2 separate regions of the Homo sapiens genome follow, and region 1 is linked to region 2. The links come from fine-mapping of genetic effects on gene expression. A gene starts in region 2. The other region holds a variant in brackets. All regions are shown on one strand. Distances are between the middles of the regions.

Region 1 (10,194 bases), 53 kb before region 2:
AAAAGCAGAAATTGATGAATCAGAAAACAAAATGGAGATAATCCCTACAACACAGTTGTGGCAAGAATTAAATAAGATCATTCATTCATTTGCTTGCATACTATATTCCAGGCATTGTGCTAAGTACAAGGGGTATAACAGTGAGCAAAACACACAGCCCTGCCCTCATGGAGTTTTCAGTCTAACGACAGAGGCAGATACATGAGTAAATACAGTACAATGTTCAGTGAAATCAAGGCAGAAGCAGAGGGCATTGTGGGGTCTAGCAGAGGTGCCCTGACCCATCCTGGGGAGAGGGACTGTTCCCCAGAAGGAGGTGTGTAAGGTAAACATGAGGATGAACAAGGTTATTGTTATTGAGAGTGTTCTTGACCAAGAAAATAGTACATGCCAGTGTTTGATGCAAGGGAAGTTGTGTCGAAGTGGAGGAAATGGAAGCATTCCTGATTTTAGTGAGTACTTCCAACAACCTTGTGAGGTGAGGATGATGATCACCTCCATTTTATAGCTGAGGACACTGAGGCTCAGAGAGGTTCATTAACTGGTCTCAGATCTTTCAGCAAATAAGTGATGAAGTTGGGATTGAACCAGATGGCTTAGCCTGGGTTTCCTAAAACACAAAGTCTGGAGCAAAGTGTACATATTTTATGGCAGGTGCAATTCTTAGGCAGCAAGAATAAGGGGGACAGGGTGGCAGATAGAGAAGAATAGGAAGCAAACACAAAGAGCTATGTTTCTGAGCTGGCCGTAGAAACATACCTTTTTGAGCCAATGCAACTGGGTGCTGGGTCACTTGGAGTGGCAGATACGCAAGCCATGTGGAACCTCCCATTTTTGGAATAGTCCATTTGTCTGCGGCTCCTTCCTGGTTCATGGTTGTCAATGTTCCTGATTTGCTGCAAGGAGTGCTGTTACTCAGCCCCTCCAGGAAGCCACTAGGGAAGCCTGATCCCCTGCCCTAAGCATGGTGCTTTATCTGAATGTGAAAGTGGTGGAAAGAGCCTCCCTCAGATCGAGTTGGACCCAGGGGGTCAGCTGCTGCAGCTTGACAGGCTTGATGGGGTGTCTGCAGAAGGCTAGTCCTCACCCGGGGGAAACTGAGGCAGCTGGACTAGAAGAAGAGCCAAAGACAGCAGCCGGGCTCTTCATTGAGCAAGAGGGGACAGGTGGATCGAGTCAATCTGGGACGATACACGAGACCAGGCCTGTCTGATTACAGAACTTACACGCAAGAGGCCAAGCTAAGGCTGGGAAGGTGGGCAGGGGCCAAAGTCCAGAGGGCTTATTGACAGATGGAAATATGGGGCTCTGTCTGCAGGGTAATGAGGAGCCATGGGAGGATTCTCAGCACCTGGCAGGGTGGCTGGCACCAACGGCAACCCAAGAGAAGCTAGATCCCACTGGCGGGCGTGCGCCCAGTGGCCTCATATTGGCAGGGTGTAGGGGGCTGCCCGTCACCCCCCTGCCCTGCCACTTCTCCGAAGCTCAGGTCCAGAGGCTGGCAGTGAGGTGCTGCCCATGACAACTGCAGCGCTCATCCTTCAGCATGACATTGGCACATCACTGGGGGAGTGGAGGGTGACGGAGCACCATTCCGGGTGGTAATGGCTCCAGCGCCAGGAGGAAAATGACATAAATAATATCCCATTAGAGGCGCCGAGCGGCTCCGCTGAGTGCCTTGTGTTGCTGGCAACATTATGGGCTTCATAAACAGACTCATTCATTTTCCACTCGTTGCTCTGGTGGATGGGGGATGGGTGGGCTGCCAGGGAAGGTGACTGGGGGCTGCAGAGGCAGTGAGGGGCAGGAACAGCACAGTCCGCCCCTCCAAGCCTCAACTCGCATGCCTCCAGCTTGGGCCACCAGACTTGCTGGCCCTGTCCACCTCTAGACTTTTGCCCACACGCCCTGCCTCTGCCTGGAACACGCTCTCCCCAGCTCAGTCTTTGGAAACCACACTACTTCTTTCAGGGACTAACTCAGGTTGCTCCTTGGTGCTGGGTTCTCCATGCAGCTTTCCTTAATTCCCAATCCTTATTTTTATTTTATTTTATTTTATTTTATTTTATTTTATTATTTTTTTGAGACAGAGTGTCACTCTGTTGCCCAGGCTGGAGTGCAGTGGTGCGATCTTGGCTCACTGCAAGCTCCGCCTCCCGAGTTCACGCTATTCTCCTGCCTCAGCCTCTCGAGTAGCTGGGACTACAGGCGCCCATCACCACGCCCGGCTAATTTTTTGTATTTTTAGTAGAGACGGGGTTTCGCCGTGTCAGCCAGGATGGTCTCGATCTCCTGACCTCGTGATCTGCCCGTCTCGGCCTCCCAAAGTGCTGGGATTACAGGCGTGAGCCACCGTGTCCAGCCCCCAGTCCTTATTTTTTTATTTTATTTTGAAATGGGGCCTCTATCACTCAGGCTGGCGTGCAGTGATGCAATCACAGCTCACTGCAACCTCTACCTCCTAGGCTCAGGTGATTCTCCCACCTCAGCCTCCCAAGTAACTGGGACTACAGGCACGTAACACTATGCCTGGCTAATTTTTATGTTTTTAGTAGAGCTGGGTTTCAGCGTGTTGCCCAGGTTGGTCTCCAACTCCTAGGCTCAAGTGATCCACCCGCCTTGGCCTCGCAAGGTGCTGGGACTACAGGCATGAGCCACCGTGCCCAGCCCATTCTCCATGGCCTCGAGGCTCCCTTAGCTCTGGTGAGACAGCCTGGCACACTGGAGGGCATCCTGGAGACAGACAACTCTGGATTCAAATTCTGAGCTGGCAATTATAAGTCTGGTGACCTTGGGTTAGTCCTCGAATCTCTCTGAGCCTCAGCTTCCTCTTGTGAAAGGATATCTTGTGAGAGTATCTTACAGGCTTGTCATGAAAAGTGTCTTTTAGGCTTGTCTGGAACACAGTTGATTTTCATAAATAATTGTTCTGCTTGTCCCCTTTACTATGTAGACATTTGAGTTCTCTCCACAAAGGGACCATTGATTTTCTTGTGTCTGTCCCTCCTGGAGTCTAGTCCTGGGCTCCGTGCATGGCAGGTGTTGAAGGCAGGTTTGAGGGTGCAGTGAGAGGAGCTCTGGGTAAAGAATGTAGGGCCCCGGGTCTTGTCCCAGCTTGAACATTGATGAGCTGTGTGACCTTGGGCCAGTCCCTTCCCCTCTCTGGGCCTCTTTCTCTGCAAGGGTAAGACAGAAGTTTACATAAAAGGACACCTGTGGCCCTTCTCAGCTACCACTTAGAGGACCTCAGGCTAGTACCCCATCCCTCCACCTGTCAGGAGGTGGGCTCTGGCTTTCAAGTCAGAGAGAAACAGGCTAGGATCCTGCTCTGCTGTGTGGCCTTGAGCAAGAACAGAACATCTCTGAATCTCACTCAGTTTCCTTGTCTGAAAAATGGAGGTAATACAGCCAGCATTACAGGGTGGTTGTAGTAACTTAGTGAAATTATTGAATCAGTGGTATTCGCTGAACACTTATTATGTGCCAGGCACTATTCACTGTTGGGGATACAATGGTGAACAAGATAAGGATTATTCTCCCCCTTCCCAGAGCTTATATTTAAGTGAGAGAGAGAGAGACAAAAATCAGCCATCACATAAATAACTACATAATTACCAACCGTGCTATATGTTATAAAGAAAAAGTAGGCTAGGCATGATGGCTCACACCTGTAATTCCAGCACTTTGGGAGGCGAAGGTGGGAGGATCACTTGAGCCCAGGAGTGCGAGCCCAGGAGTGCTAGACCATCGTGGGCAACATGGGGAGATCCCGTCTTTACAAAAACTAAAAAATTAGCTGGCCATGTGGTTTACACCTGAAGTCCCAGTTACTCAGGAGGCTGAGGTGGGAGGATCGCTTAAGTTGGGGAATGGTGGCTGCCGCGAGTTGCAATCATGACACTGCACTCCAGCCTGGGAAACAGAGTAGGACACTGTATCTAAATAAAGTAAAATAAAATAAAATAAAATGGAAGTACAGGGTCCTGACCTAGTGCTCCTAGTTATGGAGGGCTTCCTGGGAAGGTGGCACATGAACTGAGATCTTGTTCTGATTATTTATTGCTGTATAACAAATGAACCTAGTAGCTTAAAACTACAATTTTTGTTGATGCTTGTGGTTTCTGTGGATCAGGGATTCAGAAGGGCTCTGCTGTGCAGCTCTGACTCAGGGTCTCTCATGAGGTTTCAGTTAGATGATGGCTGGAGCTGGAGCAGCTGGAAGATGCTGGACATCTCTTTCCTTCTCTGTAGGTGATCTCAGGGATTCTCCATGTGGTCTTTCTGCAGAGGCCGGCTTGGGCTTCCTCATAGCATGGCATCCTCAGGACAGTCATGCTGCTTAAATGTAGCTTAGGGCTCCAGAGCCAATGTCCTTGACCTCCTTCCAGAAGTGTCCCAGTGTCACTTACATGGCATCCTATTGGCCACAAACAAGTCATAGCCTGCCCCAAATCAAGGGAAGGGAACACGGGCCCCACTTCTTCCCAGGACAAGTCTCAAGGTCATATTTTATAAAGAACACGTAAGATAAAAGATGCTGTTGTGCCTATCTTTGCAAAATATGCCCTGCCATAGATCTGAAGGGTGAGTAGGCGTTAAATAAGCAGAGAAGAGAGTTCCAGGCAAAGGGACAGCTGGCACAAAGGCCCTGGGGTGGAAAGAATGTGTGGTTTTGTACTGAGGAAGCACTCAGGGACACAGTAGTGAGTAAGACAACAACCCATAACGTTTGGAGCTTCCATTCTAGTGGGAGAGACAGACAATAAACACACAAAGAAACAAACAACACAATTTCAGGTTGCAATCAGTCCCAGAAAGGGAATACACTGGGTGCCGTGACAGAGTGAGATTGGGAACTGGAGTAGTACTTCAGGCTGGCAAGACCTTTCTGAGGGGGTGGCAATTGAGCTGAGAGCTGCAGATGAGAGGGAGCTGGCCAGCCACGCAAAGGGCTGGGGAAGAGTGTTCGCATCCGAGGGAACAGCATGTGCAAAGGCTAAGAGGTGGAAAAGGGATGGGTGGCATGGTTGAAACTTGGTACGCAAGGGGGCTGGCAGGTGTGACATAAGGATGGACAGGGCGGGAGAGGCCAGGTTTTGCAGGGCTCTGGCAAGGAGTTTGGACTTATTTCTAAGTGTGACAGGGAGCTATTAGAGGGTTTTAAGCAGGAGAGTGATGTGATCTCATTTTGTAATAGAGATCCTCTGGCTGCCGTGGCACTGACTTCTGGGCGTGATGCCAGACTTCCGTTCCTGGCAGTACCATGAATGTGCTGTGTGACCAGAGGCTAGTCACTTAACCTCTCTGAACTGTAAAATGTGAAGAATGGAATATAGTGGGCAGGAAGGAGGGAACCCAGGGAGAAGGCTGTAGCATCATCCAGGCAGAGATGATGGTGGCCTGGACCAAGGTGGTTTCGGTAGAGTTGTTGGTAAGAAATGGGTAGGATCACGACAGACTGGGAGGTAGAATGGACAGAACCTGGTGATTGGATGTGGAGCATGAGAAGGAGGAAAGTACAACCCCCAGGTTTCTGGCAAAGCTTAATCTTATTTTACAGCTCAGAGAGGTTAAGTGACTAGTCTGTGGTCACACAGCACATCCATGGTACCCAGAATTTAGTGCCACCCTCTGGTACTGATACTGAGCCCTTGGCCCTTTTCTCTGTGTCTCCCCTGCCCTACTGCCCCCCATCACCTCCCCTTCTTCCTCCCAGGATGCTGGTGGCTCTGGTTGACGCAGTCCCAGCAGGTGTGCCTCGCCAAGCTGTCGGCATGATGAACAGCTTCCCTTGGCTGAGCAGATAACAGTACACACACAGGTCGGGGGGGCCCATGTAGCCCATCCATCAGGCCCGGGAGTGAGTGGAGGGCCGGCACACCCTCATGCCTGTTATCTGCCACAAATGTGTTTTTCTCCCCAAGGTTAACAGGAAGAGTGACAGCCAG[G/T]TGCCTGACATCAGCAGGGCTGGTGTTCGTAGGAGCCAGCCAGACTCTCTCTCCTTTTCTCTCCCTCAGCGTCTGAAGAGTCCTGGGTGTGGAGACGCTTAGAGCCTCAGAATTGCAGACTCTTCAAGTCTTGAGCACTGAATCTTCGAAACTTAGATGCGTACAATCCTTCATTCCTTGAGGCAGGATTGTGTGGTGGTTAAAAGCGGGGACTCTGGATCCCGCCTAACCTGATTGGGTTGACATCCCAGTTCTGCCACTTACTAGCTGTGTTATCTAAGGCAAACACCTCAGCATCTCTGTGCCTCATTATGAGGGTGGTAATAGTGTAATAGTGTCTAGACCACGGGTGGCCGTGGGGATTATAGGAACTAATCTTTGTATCTAAAGTGCTTAGAACAATGCCCGGCACAGAGCATGTTGCTCATATTGGTAGATATAGAGTTCTTAAAGACACAGAATCTTCAAGTCTAAGTTTTAGAGACACAGAACTTTAAAACCTTTGAATCTTCTTAGGGCCACAGATTTTCAGAATCTTACTATTTTAGGTGATTATGGTCACACCTGCAGTGGCAGCTGCAGGGGTTTTAGGCTTCCATAATCTCTGTCACTTCTTTCTCATTTCATTCACATGGGCAATAGCTAGTTTCTCAATCTTATGTAAAGTGTTCTGCAAATATGGTGGCAAGCCCACCTTCTAGGCAGATTGTGGGCCCCACATAGAAATTCTAGAGTGTCTACTGCACAACACCTCACAGTCTCTATAAATACGTTTATCTAACTATCTACCCAGTCCATCCATCCATCCATCCATCCATCCATCCATCCATCCATGCATCCCTTCATTTATCCATCCATGCATCCTTTCATCTATCCATCTTCCCATCCATCCATCTATCCACTCATTCTATCCATCACCTTCTCACATCTATCAATCAATCTATTGTCTAGCCATCTATATGCATTTCCCATCCTTCCATCCATCCATACATCCATACATACATTCTTCTATCTATCCATCTTTTCATCCACCCATTGATCCATACTTTCATCATCCATCTGTCCATCCATCCATCCATATTTGCTCATCCCTCCTCCCCCATCCACCTATCCCATTTCTCTCTCTCTCCTTCCTTCTTTCTTCCTTTTTAAAATTTTCTCATCCTTCCATCTATCTGTCTATCTATTCACCCAACACTTATTCACTTATTGAGTGTCTATAGCATACAAGGTACTGGATTGGGCTATAGAAGGAGGTCTATGCATTGGCGTCAGTTTCTATCTTCCCTGAGCTTCCAGTCCAGCAGGCCATAGAAGACCCAAACACAAACCTGATAATGCAAGCTTGGCTCTATACAGCAGAGATAAAAAGCCATGCTGAGTGACAGAAAGGGAATTCTCCTTTCTGCTGGGGCCCCTGGGGCAGCTTCATAGCAGAGGTGGTATTTCATCAGGATCTCGAAAGACCCTGTCTTGATGACATTACAAGTGGCTTCATCTTTCAGGGGACTGGGAAGAGAAGCCTGGGGAGCCTTAAACACCATCTGGTTCACCTGGATGACCACTGCTAGGAGGTTTGCTTCCATTTTTTTTTCAAATTTAATATTTTTCATTTTGGTTTAGTGAAGGGGACCAAATGAAAGGAGGTTCCCTTTAAATACCATGTGAAGAAGTGCTGCAATCCCTTCTTGCACACCTCCAGGGCTGAAAAGCTCACTACCAGACAAGGAGAAAGGCCTCTAGAACTCTACTGTGCTCCAGGAACTGAAAGGCACAAAGGGCTCTGTTTGATCTTCCTGACCCCCAGGAACTGTCTATTACTGTTATCTGGGGGGTTGGGGGTAGGAATAGTGCTCTGGACCCAGTGTGTTTGGCTCACATCCCAGCTTCCCATTCATGAACTGTATGACCTGGAACAGGTTACTTCACCTCCCAAGGACTCAGTTTACTCATCCATAGTACGGTGATGGCAATTAGAATACCTCTCATGGGATTGTTACAAGGATCAAATGAGCTAACACATTCATGATGCTGAGTGAATGTTTGTGAAATTATTGCTATTACTGTTTTAGGTGGTTGTATTAGTCAGTGTTGCATCAGGCAGCTCAGTGGAGAGCATGAATCTAGCAAAATCGTGACAGTGGTTTGGAAGAGTTGAAAGTGCAGTGGCTGGAGATTATCAATAGCAGAAAAGATGCTACAGACCATATTCACCATTTGACGAAGGCATCCTCTTTGGACTAGTGGGTGCTGCACAAGTAAATGGGATGCTGTGAGAGAAAGAACCCCAAGACTGGAGGAACAAAGACAGGAGTGATTTTTTTTCAAGACAGGTCTCCTTATGTCACCCAGGCTGGAGTGCAGTGGCGTGATCACAGTTCACTGCTGCCTCCACCTCCAGGTTCAAGCGATCCTCTCACCTCAGCCTCCTGAACAGCTGGGACTACAGGCATGCACCACCACGCCCGGCTAGTTTTTTGTATTTTTTGTAGAGATGGGGTTTCTCCATATGCCCAGGCTGGTCTCAAACTCCTGGGCTCAAGCAATCCTCCTACCTCGGCCTCCCAAAGTGCTCACAGGCGTGAGCCTCCGTACCTGGCCAAAAGAGGAAGCAACGTTACAAGAAAGAGCCCAGGAGTTGGGGCTACCTAGAAGGAGTTGGAACCACAGAGGGAGAGGCTGCCTTTCCAAAGACTAGAAACCAGGGAGGAGATGCAGCTAGTGGAGACCTTGCCCTGAGTAGAGGGAGCAGAAAAATACCCTGCTTCTCCCTCCCTCCTGCCCTGCAGTCTGTATGCACTGTCATCTAGGGAGACAAATCAGAGACAAGGAGGCCTGCTCACCCAGCTTGCAGAGCCCAGAGGATCATTTCCTAGGGTATGTTCCTCATGATCCTATTCTGCAAGATACTTCTTCAGAAAAAGGTTTTTAGGCAAATCAGGCTTGGAAATGCTGTAGGCAAGAACTCTGTCCCGCAGATCTGCCAGGCATGTTACTACAGTGAAGACGAGCAGCAACAGAGTTAAAAAGCCCAGGCTCTGTAGTCAGACTCAGTTCCCTCCTCTATCAAATGGGAATAGTAACAATATGTACTTTACAGGGCCATTTATTCATTTGTTAATTTATTCATTAATTGAGTAGATACAGTGTGTCAGTCTCCAGGGATATGCTGGTGAACAAGACAGACATGGTGTCAGTCCTCAAGAAGCTTACATTCTAGAGGAATATAAGCTAATGAGGTAATGAATGTAAAGTGCTTAGCACACTGCCTGGAATATAGTAAATGCCCAATAAATGCCACCCTTAAAGGCTCTGAGAAGTCCTGCAATGGATACATCTTAAATCCAGGGCTTTCCAAACATATCTGGCCATGAAATCTGCCTCTTTTCCCCCCAATAGTACCCTATTCCTATGCTGCAGCACTCACTGGTCCAAAGAACATATTTTAGAAATGCTAGGTGGGCAGATACGGTCTATACACATACTTATACACAGAGACACACAAAGATACAAATATCAACTACTTCTGGTAGCTAATGAAATATTAATAGGGCTTTGAAGAAATGGGAATAGCTCATCTCTTGTTTCATTTTAAAGTGACCACATTTTGTATAAATCTTGTCTTGGAGGGTAGTAAGTGGAATTCACTTTGATGAGTTTGTTCTGAAAAATACGGAGTCATTAATTAATTGATCCACTCAACAAGCATTTACAGCAGCTTCTGTCATTCTGTGCTGCCTGCGTGGCACTGGGGACACAGTGATTCTAAGGCAATGTGTAGGATCAAGATACGCCCTGTATATTGTGGCAGCCCCAAAAGAGGCCGCCTATGACCATCTGGGAGGGCTTCCAGGAAGAGGCGCTATCTGAGTTGAGTCTAAAAAGGTGAATGGAAGTTTAGCTAGGAAAGGGAGCCCTGTAGAAATGGGTATTCACTGTTCTTGGCCCTGACTCCTTAGGGTCAGAGTCAATTTTAGGTCCAAGAAGGGAGAAGATGGTCTGGCCCCCAGTGGTTTCTTCTCTACTTGTGCTGGGGGCTTGGGGGGTCATGAAAGGAGCACTGGGCTGGGAGTCAGGCAGCCCGGGGAGCAAGTCCAGTGTCTGTCACCCACTACCATGCGACCTTGAGTAACTCACTCCCTCTCTCTGAGCCTCAGCTTTCTCATCAGTGAACTGGGGCTAGCAGAGCTTACCTCACTGGGCTGATGTGAAGAGCAGGGGAGGTGATGGATGAGGAAGTGCTTTG
Region 2 (10,194 bases):
ATTCCTTTATCATACCTCAGACTCTTTTTCCCTCCCACACCAAATAATTCCTTTTCGTTGCATATCCATGACTATCGAGTTTTTACTTGGCTCACAGTCTGTCTAGGAACATAAATTCTCCTTGTGTCTAATTGAGACCTGTGCCTGCTGGGAGAGATAATTACTCGTTAGCAGTCAATAATCTCCTGTGCCTGGATCATAAGTGTCAGTACTATTTGAAAGGTTAACTGAGCCCAAATCCCTACTGTGAAACACGTAGTCAGACAGACTTGGTTTGGAGTCTTGCCAGTTACTAACTATGACTGTGGGCAAGGAGCTAAACTCCAGATCTCAGTTTTCACAATTATTTAAAAATATGACAGTACAGGGGACCCATGGACCTGGATGTTGGGAATAAGAAGCAGAGGGAACAGACTCTTCCTGAGCCCCAGAAATTGCATTCTGCTCCCCAGAAAACAGGTTCCCCTTTCCATTGCCCACTCTGTAACTCTTCCCCACCCATTCAGGTACTGATTGGAAGAGTCAGGATTTCTTCAGCAGTCTCGTATGTTTCAAATCAACCCAAGATTGTAGGGTAGGAGCTCAATATTGATGATAAATATATTTTATAAGTGTGTTTTTGAGAATATTTTCTTAAAGGCTCTTCCAATAAATAATTTACTGGGCAATGAAAAATGGAGAAGGTGACTCTGATTACACTTTGGAGCATCTAAAGTGTGAAGTTTAAGGAACCTAGGCAGCCCATGGCTATTTAAAAGCTTTCTGGAAGGGGTAATTCTTCCACATTTTTTTTAAAGGTTACAGCCCAGCAGTTGGTCTCTTGAATGGTGCTCTTCTCCTAACTCCCTCCTGGATGCCACTCTGAAATCATTATCGTCACAATTTCATTCTGCTTGGTGCATAGCACATAGCTCTTCTGAGCATTCCTTTTTTTGTCTTTAAAATTGAAATAGTCACATTGTTAGGATTTTGGGTGAGAAGTAAAAAAAAAATTTTTTTCTGAGACAGGATCTTGCTCTGTTGCCCAGGCTGGAGTGCAGTGGTGTGATCTTGGCTTACTGCAGCCCCAACATCATTGGCTCAAGTGATCCTCCCACCTCAGCCTCCTGAGTAGCTGGGATTCCAGGCACATGCCACCATACCCAGCTAATATTTTTATTTTTATTTTGTAGAGGCAGGGTCTTACTTTGTTTCTCAGGCTGGTTTCAAACTCCTGGCCTCAAGGGATCCTCCTGTCTTGGTCTCCCACAGTGCTGGGATTATATAGGTAGGAGGCATCACACCTGGCCTTTGGGTGAGAATTTGAAGGTATTTGAGATTGTTATGACCAGGAATTAATGAATCAATCAATCAGTAGATTAGTTGGTTCATTTATTAAATCAACAACTATTTAGTGAGTAACAATTAAGTGCCAGGTACTGTGTTAGGTTCTGAGTTTACTGTGGTAAATGATACAGCAATCTTTGCTCTTCTGGAGCTTAGAATCTGGAAGGGAAAGCAGTCCACAAATGGGTAAAAAGCAAACAAATATAAAAACAAAAACAATAAGTGTTCTGAAGATAATAATGGTCAGGAATGCTGATAGAGAATCTTGAAGGGGAGGAACTGTCTTAAATCTTGTGGTCAGGAAAGATTCCTCTGATGTGTGCAATTAAGCTGAGACCTGAAGGGTGAGCGCCCCAAGTCTCATTCCTGGGGGTTCCCAAAGAATTATTAATGGACCCTCTCATCAAGATAAAATGAAAATATCTTAATCTGGCATTCAAGTTTCTCCAAGATTAGGGTTGCCAGATAAAATAAATAATGCCCATTTAATTCTGAATTTCAGACAGAAAACATTTTTAGTATGTTATTAAATATTGCATGAGACAAATTTATAAAAAATTCATTATTTGTCTGAAATTCAGATTTAACTGGGTGTCCTGTATTTTTATTTGCTAAATCTGTTAACCCTCTTCGTGATCTTCTCCAGCCAGCCTCTCCACCTTTTCTTCCACACATTTGAAGCTCTGTCCACAAGGAAGGGTCCAATTGCCTTGTCTTTGCTCATGCTGTTCCCTCTGCCTGGGTCACCATTCTCCCACTGTATCTTCTTGGTAAACTCTTCTTTCCCTTTAAACCCCTGTCCAGATGTTACGTTCTCAGGGAAACCTCTAGCAGAGCACATTAGCCCCAGTTCAGGGTGCTCACCAAACCTGGTTCTTATAGGATTTTGCCTTATAATTCTGTGTTTTAGAACTGGTCTCTACAAAAACAGACAAGACTGATTGCCTAAAAAGGAAAGGTTATAAGGAATTCTCTCATTCTTCCTGCCCTCTCCCTTGCCCCTATCCCACTCAACTCCTTTTTCTTTCTTTTTTTTTTTTTTTTTTTTGAGAGACAAGGTCTTGCTCTGTCACCCAGGATGCAGTGGCACAATCCTGGCTCACTGCAACCTCTGCCTCCTGGGCTCAAGTGATTCTCCAGCCTCAGCCTCCTGAGTAGCCGAGACTACAGGCACGTGCCACCACATCTGGCTAAATTTTTTTTCTATTTTTTTGTAGAGACAGGGTCTCACTATGTTGCCCAGGCTGGTCTCGAACTCCTGGGCTCAAGGGATCCGCCTTGGTCTCCCAAAGCTCTGGGATTACAGACATGAGCCACCGTGCCCAGCTGCCAACTCCTTACAATATTAATATAAGACACACAGCACTTTTCTGTGCCAGGCACTGTGCCAAGTGCTTTGCATACAGCATTTCATGTAAACCCTCCATAACCTTATGAGGTAGATTTGGTTGAATCTCCACTTTGCAGGTGAGAAAATCAGGCATGTAGAGGTGAAGTTCATTGCCACTGTTTCCACATCTGTAAAATAAGACTCATATCAACATTTTCTCCATGAGGTTTTCACCCAAACTAGAATGTAGGTTTCCAGAAGGCAGGAGCTTTGTTTTATAAACTTCCATATCCTCAGAGCCCAGAATTGTGCCTAGCATTGAGTAGGCTCTCAGTAAATACTTGTTGAATGAATGAATGAATGAATGAGTCATGTTACAGATAAGGAAAGTGTAATTTAGGGACAGAGAAAGTAACTTACCCAAGGACCCATGGCTAGATATGGTGGAACTTCCACTAGAACCAGAATCAGGGTGTGTTGGGTAGATGTTTAACAACTGGCTCGGCTGGGTGCAGTGGCTCATGCCTGTAATCCCAGCACTTTGTGAGGCCAAGGCGGGGGGATTGCTTGAGCTCATGAGTTTGAGACCAGCCTGGGCAGCATGGTGAAACTCTATTTCTACAACAACAGCAACAACAACAACAACAACAAAATAAGCCAGGCATGGTGGCGCACGCCTGTAGTCCTAGCTATTTGGGAGGCTGAGGTGGGCTTCAGCCCGGGAGGGGGAGGTTGCAGTGAGCTGAGATCCCGCCACTGCACTCCAGCCTGGGTGATAGAGCCCGAGCTTGTCTCAAAAGCAAACAAAGAAACAAAAAAACCCTACAAGTAGCTCTCTGGAAAAACAACAACATTAACAACCCTGATTTGTAGCATTTGCTGATTTACATTGTACAAATACTCCTAGCATGGCTGATTTCAAGCTATCAACCTGGTGTCAATCAGCTTGCAAGTTTCCTACAAATTTAACCATGGGCTTTTGTAGACCTGTCTGTGCAAGCTGGCATCAACATACCATGAACTAGAACACAGGGGTCTGGGTCCAAAGGGTACACCCTCACCATTACTCTCTCCTGTCTTCCCAAACAAGGCACAGTCTATATTCTATTTTTTTTTTTTTTTTTTGAGACGTAGTCTTGCTCTGTCGCCAGGCTGGAGTGCAGTGGTGCCATCTTGGCTCACTACAATCTCCACCTCCCTGGTTCAAGCGATTCCCCTGCCTCAGCCTCCCAAGTAGCTGGGACTACAGGCACGTGCCACCACACCTGGCTAATTTTTTGTATTTTAGTAGAGATGGGTTTTCACCATGTGGGCCAGGAAGATCTCAATCTCCTGACCTCGTGATCTGCCCTCCTCGGCCTCCCAAAGTGCTGGGATTACAGGCGTGAGCTACCACACCCGGCCGGGCACAGTCCATATTCTTATATAAGTAGGAGGGGGAAAGACACCCAAATAGACTGAATTCAATGCAGATTGCATAGGTGATCCTTTAAAAACATAAGCCCAGTCACAAAACTACCTTGCTTAAAACTTTCCTTATGCCGTTAGCATAAAATCCAATCTCTCTCTCTTTTTTTTTTTTTTTTTTTTGAGACAGAGTCTTGCTCTGTCACCCAGGCTGGAGTGCAGTGGTGGAATCTCAGCTCACTACAGCCTCTGCCTCCTGGGTTCAAGCGATTCTCCTGCTTCAGCCTCCCAAGTAGAGGCATGTGCCACCATGCCCAGCTAATTTTTGTAATTTTTAGTAGAGACGAGGTTTCACCATGGTGGTCAGGCTGGTCTCAAACTCCTGACTTCAAGTGATCTGCCCGCCTTGGCCTCCTAAAGTGCTGAGCTTACAGGCGTGAGCCACCACGCCCGGCCACGCCTAGCCAAAATCTAATCTCTTTACCATGGCACACAAGGCCCATTATGAAACCTCTCCCTCTACCAGGCACTGTACTAGGCTTGGGGGATACAGTGGTGAACATGACACACACATGTCCTGCTTGCATAGAGCTTGCAATCCAGTAAATGAGGCTGTCAAGAAACAAATAGTCAACCATTAAGCACAAAATTACAGAATGAGATATATACGTAGTGGAGCAGGTACTTGGAAAAAGAATAATGAGGAGAGAGGTTGATTACCTGGACCAGGGTGAGTTGAAGAAGCCCTTGTAAGAAAGTGACATTTGAGACCCGAAAGATGAGAGAATTGGATGAGGTATGGTGCTGATGGCCAGGCAGAAGGGGAGAGGATTTGTCATTCTGAGGAATAAGAATAATTTCTGTATAATTGGAGCCAGTGCAGATGGGATGGGGACCAAAATTATAAATATGAAGGGCATATAAATATAATATAATACATAAATATAATTATAAATATAAAGGACAGGGGCTTATGGAAGGAGGTTTAATTTCCTTTGAAGATGGAGCCTTAAGTCCCAGGTGCATTCTGATCTTGTTTAAGATCAGATGCACTCTGAATGATTCTCTTCCAATTATGGGCAACTTTCTCCTCCAGAAACCTTTTTATATCACCTGGGTAGCAAGGGGATCATCTAGTGACCGTTAGACTTCGCATAGATGAGCAGACACAAGCCTAGAGAGGGACATGTGATCACCAATAGTTTCTCAGCCAGTAATAGTTGTACAGCCTTGGAACAAGTCACTTTTTGAGCCAGCACTATCTGATAGAAATTAATGGGAACCACAAATGAGAGCCACATGTGTAATTTAAAACTTTCTACTAACCACATTTAAGAAGTAAAGAGAAACAGGTAAAATTCATTTTATAATATATGAATTTGACCCAGTATATCCAAAATATCATTTCAACCTGTAATCAATGTAAGTCTTAGAAATCTGGTGTGTATTTTATTTACACTTATGGCACATCTCACTTCGGAGTAGCCATATCTCAAGCGCTCGGTAGCCATATGTGGCTAGTGAGTAAAGTATTGGATGGTGCAGTTGGGAGCGTCAGTTTCCTTTTCTGTGAAATGAGGATAAATCACTGGAAGCTCGTGAGAGCGCACACGAAACACCCGGCACTCCGCCCTGGACACTAGGGACGCGCAATCAAGTTTGGTTTCTTCTGGTCCCTGCTCTCCCCTCCCGCCCCTCCTCTAAGTCTCCGCCCCCTTTCCCCGCCCCCTCAGGCTCCAGGCGGAAGCAACCCTGTTCCAAATGCAGCGCGCTTTACGGCGGCGCGTCCTTTTACCGCGGTGTGGCCGGCTCGCTTGTCGCTCGCACTTTTGCCCTATTGGCTCTGCGGCTCCGCTCGCCGCACTTTACGGCAGTGTGGCTGGAGCCGCGGCTGACGGGCCCGCGGTCTGGGCGTGAGTGCAGGGAAGTGGAGTATTTGCTGGGCCGGGTACCATGGACGTGGGCGAACTTCTGAGCTACCAGGTATGAGGGGCAGGGAGGGCCGAGCGACCGCGTTCTCACCTGGGCAGGGGTCGCAGGAGCCAGAGCCCTTTCATCTCACCTCCTCTCGCCTCACTCCCGGGCCCTCTAACTTCTCATGCCACCCGGGGTCTCAGCCCCTCGTTTTACTTTGCTCTCCGAAGCCCTCCTGGGCCCTTTCGATTCATCCCTTCTCAAGACCTGAGCCCTTCACCTCCTCTTCCTCACCCTGGGGCCTGGTTCCCTGAAACTCCTCTGAAACCCCAGACTATCCTTTTTTTCACAACCATGTCCTCTCAGCTCTCATGTCCCCCCAGTCATTGAGGTGATGGTGGTGGCGGCGGTGGGAGTGCACTGGTCTCACTTGGATTTGATCTCCAGCTTCTCCACTGACTGGCTATGTGGCTTTTGGACAAGTCATTCCCCCCCTCTTTGAACCAAGTTTTTGTATCTATATAGTGGAGACACTAATAACTGCCTTAGTAGGGTTGTTTGAGGACTGTACCAACTGATATGTATGAAAGCTGGTTTTAAAGTGTGGAAAGCTGTGCTTGTGTTTACTGCGATTTGCAGGAGATGTTGGGAATTCTAGCATGGAATGAGTTTCTAGGAATCTTGCTCAGGGTCCCCCTTGCCTAGGAAACTTGTGGGGAAACTGTATGGGACCTAGAGAGCAGAAAGGGCTTGTCCAAAGTCACTCAGAAACAAGGAGCTGGAATTTGAGCTCAGGCGTACTGACTTCCACCCCAAAGTTTTTCCCCCACTTTGATTCCATAGGAGGGTCATTGCGAGGAGCAGTAGAGCTGCACTGCCGAATGTCGTAGCCACTAGCCACATAGGCTGTTGATTGCTTGAAATGTGACTAGTCTGAATTGAGAAATACTGTAAGTATAAAGACACATTTGGGTTGGAGACTAGTATGGAAAAAGTGAAATTTTTATATTGATTACATGATCGTACTGATTATATCAATTACATTGGTTATTGGTCATATTGATTAAATGATCATATTTTGGATAATGGGTGAAATAAAATATACTTAATTAATTTTTAAAATTTTATTTTATTGTTATTTAGAGACAGGATCTTGCTCTGTCGCCCATGCTGGAGTGCAGTGGCACAATCATTGCTCACAGTAGCCTTAAACTCCTAGGTCTAAGGTATCCTCCCAAGTAGCTAGGACTGCAGGCAGGCATCACTATGCTTGGCTGATTTTTAAATTTTTTGTAGAGACAGGGTCTTGCTATGTTGCCCAAGATGGTCTCAAACTCCTAGCCTCAAGCAGTCTTCCCACTTGGCCTCCCAAAGTGCTGGGATTACAGGTATGAGCCACCACACACCACACTCAGCCAATAAAATATGTTTAAAACCAATTTTAACTGCCCCTCTTGACATTTTAATGTGTTTACTAGAAAATTTAAAACAACATATATAGTTCAGCTTATATTTTTGTTAGACAGCCCTGCAGTCAAGAATAGGTGATTAAGAGCCATGAGTCTGGACCCCTAGGTTGCTGGCAGTCTCTGTTTTGCTACTAACTGGCTGCTGTAACCTTGAACAAAATACTTAATTTCTCTCTGCCTTGGTTTCTTCATCTGTAAATGGGGGACAGTGACGGTAGCTGCCTCACAGGGCTGTTGTGAAGCTGTTGAGAAATGGAAAGTCCTTAGACAATGCTTGCCAAAGAGTAAACATTCAGTAAATATTAGCAGTTATTTTCATACCACTCCCTCAGCCAAAGTACAAGAAATTGACCCTGGACGCTTAAGACATCATGGGAAAGAACAGTTCAGCAATGGGGAGCTATATAGCCAAGAGATTTTTCTTTTAAAGACAGTTTAATTGATAGTGAAAGATGAAGGGAAATAGGCAAGTTATTAAATCAGTGATTGTATGCCGGCTTGGAATTTCTAGAATGGCTAGCCCATTAAAGCTAGAAGAGTTTCATTCATTTGCTCAACAAATATATATTGAACACCTACTGTGTGCAAGGCAGTCTATCCACTGGGTATACAACACTGAATAAAAGACAAGATTCTTGCTTTTGTGGAGCATCTGGTGGGAAGTTACAAGATAATAAGTAAACAATGCATTCAGTTTGTGGTAAGTGCTGGGAAGGGAATATAGCAGAGTATGCTATAAAATTGCACTGCTTTGTATAGTAGCCACTAGGCACATGTGATTATTGAATACTTAAAATGTGACTAGTTTCGAATTTAGATCTGCTACATGTGCAAAATACACACTGGATTTCAAAGATTTAGTATGAAAATAATGTACAATATCTTTTTTTTTTTTTTTTTTTTTTTTTGAGATGGAGTTTCACTCTTGTTGCCCAGGCTGGAGTGCAATGGTGAGATCTCAGCTGACTGCAACCTCTGCCTCTTGGGTTCAAGCGATTCTCCTGCCTCAGCCTCCTGAGTAGCTGGGATTACGGGCATGCGCCACCACGCCTGGCTAATTTTTGTATTTTTAGTAGAGATGGGGTTTCTCCATGTTGGTCAGGCTGGTCTTGACTCCCAACCTCAGGTGATCTGCCAGCCTTGGCCTCCCAAAGTGCTGTGATTACAGGCGTGAGCCACTGCCCCTGGCCACGTGAAAATAATGTACAGTACCTTAACTTTTATGCTGATTACATGTTGAATAAATGATAACACTTACGATATATTGGATTAAAGAAAATATATTATTAAAATTAATGTTGCTTTTTAAAAAACTTTTAAAATGTGGCTACTAGAAAATGTAAAGTGGGCCGGGTGTGGTAGCTCATGCCTGTAATCCCAGCACTTTGGAAGGCTGAGGCGGGTGGGTCACCTGAGGTTGGGAGTTTGAGACCAGCCTGACCAACATGAAGAAACCATGTCTCTACTAAAAATATAAAAAATTAGCCGGGCGTGGTGGTGCATGCCTGTAATCCCAGCTACTTGGGAGGCTGAGGCAGGAGAATTGCTTGAACCTGGGAGGTAGAGGTTGCAGTGAGCTGAGATCATCCCATTGCACTCCAGCCTGGGCAACAAGAGCGAAACTCTCTCTCAAAGAAAAAAAAAAAGAAAGAAAATGTAAAGTTAGGTGTTTTGTTTGTGGCTTTTGTTGTATTTTTATTGGACAACACTCCTGTCGAAAATAACCCCTGGGAGTTGGGGACAGGACCTTTTACTTTATGTAATGTGGTCGAGGAAGGACACAGAGGAATGGGCATTAAAGGACTGAAGGTTGAGAGGGACCCAGTCATGTGAAGGGAGCAGAATGATGGAGGCAGCAAGAACAGCAAGTATGGACATAGGCTATTGGTAGAAGCTGGTGCAGCCTCATAGGGGACCAGAAAGAGGATCTATGTAGCTGAAACGGGAAGTGAGCAGGGGAATGGTAAGTGACAAAGCTGAAGATGTAGGCATGTGACAAGACTATGTAGGCCTTCCTTGTGGGCCACGATAAAGACCTTGACTTTGAGAGATACGGTAGATACCTTCATTCAACCCACTTGTTCATGGATGAAAGTGAACCTTAGTCTGATAAAGGGACTCACCTGAGGTTGTGGGCCAAGATGGTGGCCAGAGTTGAAACTAGAATCCTGGTCTCCTTATTATTATTTTTTAATGTTTACACATCTTACCACATTTAATCTTAATGGCAGTACTTAATATGTTAATATAGGAACCTTCATTTTAAAGATGAGGGAATAGGTATAGAGAATAAAAAACGTGTCCAGATTCACACAAGTGAAATGTACCTCAAGGATTCCAATCTAGGTAGCTTTGCTTCGTGATCATAAACATTTGTTTATTGTGTTATTCCAAAAGTATTTCATTTTGTCAATCTGACCCCTTTCCCCCTCACCAAGAGCAAATATGCCTAGCGCCTACAGGTAGATTGGGGTTGCCACAGGCTAATTTTCCTGAACTGCAAAATATTACTTGCCTTCCTTATCCTGGATCTTGGCCTTTACATTTTCTATTGTATCTGAGGGTTCAATCTAAGAGTTTTAAAATGCAAATATGTTGGTTGCACAATAAGGAACTACAATACTAGAACTCATTTAATTCAGGTTGACAACACTGAACTGAACCAGTAACAGGGCTGAAACCTCCTAAGTCTGCTACTGGAGAGCACTTTGATCTCGCCAGCCTAGGGCGGGCATGCTCATGTCCAGC

Alleles and levels. Positions count from the first base shown, and alleles are read on the strand shown. Sizes are in standard deviations (SD) of each study's normalised expression.
With allele G in place of T in region 1, the expression in spleen of the gene that starts at base 5,924 in region 2 is lower (large effect, 0.75 SD a copy in GTEx).

The links. PIP is the estimated chance that this variant, and not a neighbour inherited with it, causes the effect.
Region 1: its variant is fine-mapped to the expression of CTNNBL1 in spleen (GTEx, PIP above 0.99).

What each region holds. Positions count from the first base shown.
Region 1 is chr20:37,635,546-37,645,739 of GRCh38, forward strand. No RefSeq gene overlaps it. Among named protein-coding and RNA genes, the nearest start is that of LINC00489, 18 kb to the left of the region's middle. The variant G/T (reference allele first, on the strand shown) is at 5,949.
Region 2 is chr20:37,688,107-37,698,300 of GRCh38, forward strand. It overlaps CTNNBL1 (catenin beta like 1), which reads left to right and starts at 5,924. Exons shown (of 16, transcript NM_030877.5): 1 at 5,924-6,046. The coding sequence starts at 6,017. LOC105372609 (a long non-coding RNA gene) reads right to left here and starts at 3,170. Exons shown (of 4, transcript XR_936703.1): 1 at 3,077-3,170; 2 at 2,757-2,844. RefSeq lists an enhancer at 6,202-6,261 and a silencer at 9,245-9,394.